Linked DNA regions of Homo sapiens: region 1 is linked to region 2. The links come from fine-mapping of genetic effects on gene expression. Tissue or cell type: lung. Region 2 holds a variant in brackets; the other region holds the start of a gene. All regions are shown on one strand. Distances are between the middles of the regions.

What was found.
Region 1: STK33 starts here. The variant in region 2 is fine-mapped to the expression of STK33 in lung (GTEx, PIP 0.94).

What each region holds. Positions count from the first base shown.
Region 1 is chr11:8,592,541-8,595,453 of GRCh38, reverse strand. It overlaps STK33 (serine/threonine kinase 33), which reads left to right and starts at 1,226. Exons shown (of 16, transcript NM_001352389.2): 1 at 1,226-1,371. RefSeq lists a silencer at 1,404-1,663.
Region 2 is chr11:8,506,096-8,509,008 of GRCh38, reverse strand. All of the region lies in intron 1 of STK33 (serine/threonine kinase 33), which reads left to right. Among named protein-coding and RNA genes, the nearest start is that of STK33, 87 kb to the left of the region's middle. The variant C/T (reference allele first, on the strand shown) is at 1,279.

The sequences.
Region 1 (2,913 bases), 86 kb before region 2:
CTAAACATGACTTGGTTCATGCAATGTTGCCAACGGTGAAGACAAAATGGTACAAACATACAGTTTTTTGGTGGTCTGGTTTAATCCAGGGCAAAACGCAGTCCAGTGGTTGCTTTTGTTTTTAGAGGCAGGGCTGGCTATGTCGCCCAGGCTGGAACCTGTGAATATGTTACCTTATATGCAAAGGGCACTTTACAGATGTGATTAAGGACCTTAAGATGCGGGAGATTATCCTAGGAGATCTTTTTTAATCTCCTAGAGCCTGGTACCTAGTAGGACGTCATTATATGGTAGGTTTCTTGCAGCCCTTTGGTGGCCAGGTAGTTTTTAATTTTGTAGAGATGGGGGCCTCCCAGTGTTACCCAGGCTGGTCTTGAACTTCTGGGTTCTAGCAATCCTCCTGCCTTGGCCTCCCAAAGTGCTGAGATTATCGGTGTGAGCCACTGCGCCCGGCCTAGTCCAGTGGTTTGAAGTTTGAAGTTACCAGTCACCCATTATGACCATTTTGAGTTTTTTGATGAAAAGGACTGGATGAACTAGTTGCCAAATGTAGCCTCCCCCGAAGCAATACAATGAATCCACCTGCCGTATCAAGTTACTGGCTATCAATCAGCTAATTTTAGAGAACATCTGCCTCAAATAATTAGGCTAGTATTAGGAGAGTTGAATTTCTTCCCCACACTGCTAGAGAGTAGGACCCAGGACCACAGAAGCCATTCTTAGTTCAGGCCAGTAAATACATTAGCATACAGCTGGACCCTCTGTTGCATGGGGCAGGCATTCAGATGGTTCTCATAGGTTTGTAGCTAAAACATATCCCTGAGAATCGTCATTTGATCTGTCAGGAGTCTTCTCAGCCCCTGCGTGGGGACAAACACCCTCCCCCCAGCATTTTCCCGTCTTTTTAGGCCAGCTCCCCACTCACTGCAGTTCAAGGCTTGCAGCCCTTGCTCCAACTGGCTGGGGCTTGATGGGCTTGACTCCGAGTGAGAAGAGTGGCCTGAGCATCAATCACCTCAGTACTGTGATATTCCTGCTACAAAGCTTTATTTTACGTAACACGTGGCTGCTCCTCTGTGCCCCAGACGGGGTTTTAGGTCCTTCTCTAAGGCGAGCTGCCCTTGGGCGCGCCTGGGGCTGCACCTGGGTCACGTGGGCGCCGTTGTGCAGCCGGCACCTCCCGGCCAACCCCGCGGCTTGGAGAAGGGGCTTTGCACCCGCCGCCGCTGTTTGTCCTCGCGCGGCCCCCGTCCACTGCCCTGCGGTTGCTCTGCGGGCTGAAAAGTTTCTCCCGGTGCAGAATTCCGGGCTCAGCGACAGCCTGCGCCGAGTGTGCGCACCTGTCGGAGACCCGCCAGTCCGCCGGCCGCGGTGAGTGGTCCCTGGAGTCACTGGCTCAGGGCGGGCCCGCGGGATGGGGCGGGCGGCCCGGGGCGCAGCCGGCCAGGCCGTTGCTATGGCAACGCGGTGGAAAAACGGGCCTCTGGGTATCTCGCTGCCGGCCGGCTGGTAACCCCCCAGCGGAGGGACCGGGCCGAGCCCGCGGACCCCTCCGAGTGTCTCCTGGGGCCCAGCCGTTGGTACCCCATTTCCCCCGGGTCCGGTATTTGGGGTGGTCTCTGTCTGCCCCGGTTCATCTCCACCGTCTCACCTTCACCCCATCTTGGGACGTGAAACTTTTTGAAAGTTTAGAAGCGAACTTACTGTGGGGTAAGTGTGTGGGAAACATCCTTAGAAGTTCTGAAGTTGTGTTTCTTTTTTTTAAACTGCTAGAGCCTGGTACCTAGTGGGACCCCATTATATGGTAGGTTTCCTGTTGCCCTTAAGATAGTCTCTTGCACCTAGAGGCTGCACATAGGAGGTGAAAGGATGACATAAAGCAGCCCCGTACTGGCTCTGTGGACAGGTAATTTAAGAACTCTCCCTCAGCTTCCTAAATGTAGATTATAATTTCTCACAAGGTCGTGGGTTTCAGTGAACCTATATGTGAAGCTGTTTTGTGAACAGTACATGTGAAAAGCACTTGAGCGTTAGTAAGGGATATTTGCATGCTAAGAGTGGTCTGGTGCTCCCCGTCCCATATCACCAGCTAAGAAGGACCTTCTTTTTTGCCTGACCACCAAATGACTCCAATATCCAACCAGAAAATAGGATAGTCCTGCCTTGAAAGAGGGCTCTGTGAATGGAAAGGAACATCAACAAGTTTTGAACCCAAACTCTTTCCTTGTTCTCCAGGCCCGTGCCTTTAGACAGTGATGGATATGCAGATATATCGCGCATTTAAATTTTTAGCTCGTGTAAATCTCTGTTGCTATCTCAATGGGTCATACCAACCTCTAGTTTGCAAATCAGAAATCTTGGCCTCATCCTTGACACCTCGCACTTTCTTCCTTTCCATATCCAAACAATCATCAAGTTCTATTCATTTTATCTTCAAACCAAATCTCAAATCCATTTGAGTATCTCTGTCTCTGCTACTATTACCCTAGACCAATCTACCATGATCTGTTGTCCAGTAGTAGCCTCTTAACTAATCTAAAGGTATTTATCCTTTCCTTTCAATATTCCCATCCATTCTTTGCCCTGCAGCAGGAGTAGTATTTTCACAACTAAAATTTGATTATGCTACCCCCCAACCTCCTCTAGCTCAAAATCCATCATGGCTTCTCATTATTCTTAGAATAAAGACAAAACTCTTAATGTGGCCAAAAAGTTGGGTGACCATGTACATGACCATCCAGACCAAGATATTTTTGAGAGTTCGAGGCTGCAGTGAACTTGCCACTGCATTCCAGCCTGGGCAATGGAGTGAGACCCTGTCTCAAAAAAAAATAAAAAAACAGTTCCCAAAAATGAAATTATAGGGAGGTCAAAGGGCAGGAACATTGTGAATGCTCTCAAAACATCGAAACA
Region 2 (2,913 bases):
GAGTAGCTGGGATTACAGGTGTGTGCCACCACACACAGCTAATTTTGTATTTCTAGTAGAGACGGGGTTCCTCTATGTTGGTCAGGCTGGTCTCGAACTCTCGATCTCAGGTGATCTGCTCACCTCGGCCTCCCAAAGTGCTGGGATTATAGGCTTGAGCCACTGAGCCCGGCCATGAGTGGCCTTTAGAATTGACTGAGACCTTGATGGTTATTCATTTCAAGCTCCTATTTAGGGAGAAACCCATTCTCCACATTTCCATTCTCCATTGTGTTAAAGTTAATTCCTCACATGTCCCGATTGAGGTTTTTCAATACCAGTTTGGTCAAACTTTGGATCATGACCATTAATGGGTAGTGAAATCAATTTAGTGGGATGAGGGGTGTTGTGACAAGAGTTTTTTAAAAGAGGAATAGAATAGACAAGAAGAAAAGGTAAGGCCAGGCACAATAGCTCATGCCTATAATCCAATGCTTTGGGAGGCCAAGGTGGGAGGATTGCTAGAGCCCAGGAGTTTGAGAATAGCCTGGGCAACATAGGGAGACTCCATCACTGCAATAAATTAAAAAATTCGCTGGCTGTGGTGGTGGTGGGCACCTGTAGTTCTAGCTACTGGGGAGGCTCAGGTAGTTGGATCACTTCAGCCTAGGAGTTCGAGGCTGCAGTGAACTATGATTGTGCAGCTACACTCCAGCCTGGGTGAAAGAGTGAGACCCTGTCTCAAAAAAAAAAAAAAAAAAAAGAATAGAAGGTAGAGTATTTGTTTCAGTATATACATGTATGTGTGTGTTGGGTCATAATGTAAAAACCTATTTGTTGGCTGGGCGTGGTGGTTCACACCTGTAATCCCAGCACTCTAGGAGGCCAAGGTGGGCAGATCACCTGAGGTCAGGAGTTTAAGACCAGCCTGGCTAACATGGTGAAAACCCGTCTCTACTAAAAATACAAAAATTAGCTGGGCATGATGGAGGGTGCCTGTAATCCCAGCTACTTGGGAAGCTGAGATGGAAGAATCGCTTGAACCTGGGAGGCAGAAGTTGCAGTGAGCCGAGATCGTGCCATTGCACTGCAACATGGGCGACAGAGTGAGACTCCATCTCAAAACAACAACAACTACAACAACAAAACAAAACAAAGTAAAAACAAGGTATTTGTTATTGTAGATCAGGTCAAAAGCTTTTGAGAAATACTCAACTAGACTGCACGATCCTTGTGATAGGAGTCGTATTATAGGTGCTCATTAAATGCTTGTGGAATTATTATATTTGCCTCAGTTGT[C/T]AGTTTGTATTAAAAAGTAGGGGCTTGTTTACCCAATCAATTTCTGATTGGACTTATGTGGAGACAGAGGTTTTTCATCAGGGGTGCCTTTAAGTGTACCCCCCCATCCCCCTTATTTAGTCTTCTTTAAGATAAATGGGTTTTAAGACATAGACATGCTCTATATTTCCTCCTTCCTCCTTCACCTTTACCACAGGAGTCATCAAAGACTCTTCGCTGGGTAGTGATTTAGACTTATTCCCTGTCTCATACCCCCTTACAATGTGCATTGAGTGTTTATAATTTATCAGGCAGCAGTATAAGTATTTTATATGTATTAACTCATTCACTCCTCATCATAAGCCTCTAGAAGGTGCTCTGTTATCTCCAATTTACTGATGAGTAAACTAAAACACAAATAGATTAAGTGGATTAAGATCACAGGCTTAGTAAGTGGCCAGAATTTGAACCTAGGCAATCTTTGGGTATCGTAGAAAGAACACAGCACTTATCAAGAGCAGTGAGCTAGGCTAGAGGGCTGGTTGGCTCAGGGAGTTTTGCTCAACCAAGGCTCTTTTTGGGGGCAAGGCTGCTAGAAGGCCTTGCGTCATCTTTTTTTGTATTTCAGATCCCTGAAATTAGGTAAATCTGGAAAATGGACTGAATTTTCATTTTTACTTAATATTTTGATGCTGTGTGGACAAAGCCTGAGATAAGTGACCACATGTCACTTAAGATAAATCCATATTTAGTTTGAAAAGCAATGATCAGAATTGGAAATCTGAAGTATAATCTACTGTATAGGATGCCCCATGGCTAGCATGTGAATAGACACTCAGAGTAAGCAGGGGAGAAAGGGATAATTTATTTATAAGCACACACATATGTATGTGCATATGTATGTGTGTGTATTTATATCAAATTAAAAAGGTAAAAGTGTGTATGTGGGTAAATGATGTTGACAAATATAAGAGGGAAAATGGCCATAAAGGAGCTTGTGGTAGGCAGAATAACGGCCCCCCAAAGGTGTCCACGTCCTAATTCCTGGAACCTGTAAAAATGTTACCCTAAATGGCAAAAGAGACATTGCAGAATTAATTAAGGTTAAGGATCTTCAAATGAGGGGATTTTTTTGCTGGATTATCCAGGTGGGCCCAATCTAATCACACGAGTCCTTAAAAAAATCGGAGAACCTTTCCCAGCTGTGGAGAATCAGCATGGAAACAGATTCTCTCCTAAAGCCTCCAGAAAGGAATGCAGCCCCGCTGACACCTTGATTTTAGCCCAGGGAGGCTGTTAGATTTCTAACTTACAGAACTGTAAGATACTGAATTTGTATTGTTTAAGCCACTGAGTTTGTGCTGATTTGTTACAGCAGCAATAGAAAATGAATATAGGGCTCTTTAGTACTGCCCAAATTATCAAAAAGAGAGTTTCTCTGAAGGTAAGTTTCCTTCCACCTCCTCAAAGAAGCTGAAACTGTTTAGCCTTGAGAAGACAAAGTTAGTAAGGGTAACTTAGCTCTGATCTTCACTATTTAAAAGGTTATCATATGGAAAAAAGATTAGATTATTATGTTGAGTTGGAAGAATTTTAGGACAAGAGTTGAATTTACGGAGATTGTGACAATTATAGCTATCAAAATTGGACTGGGTG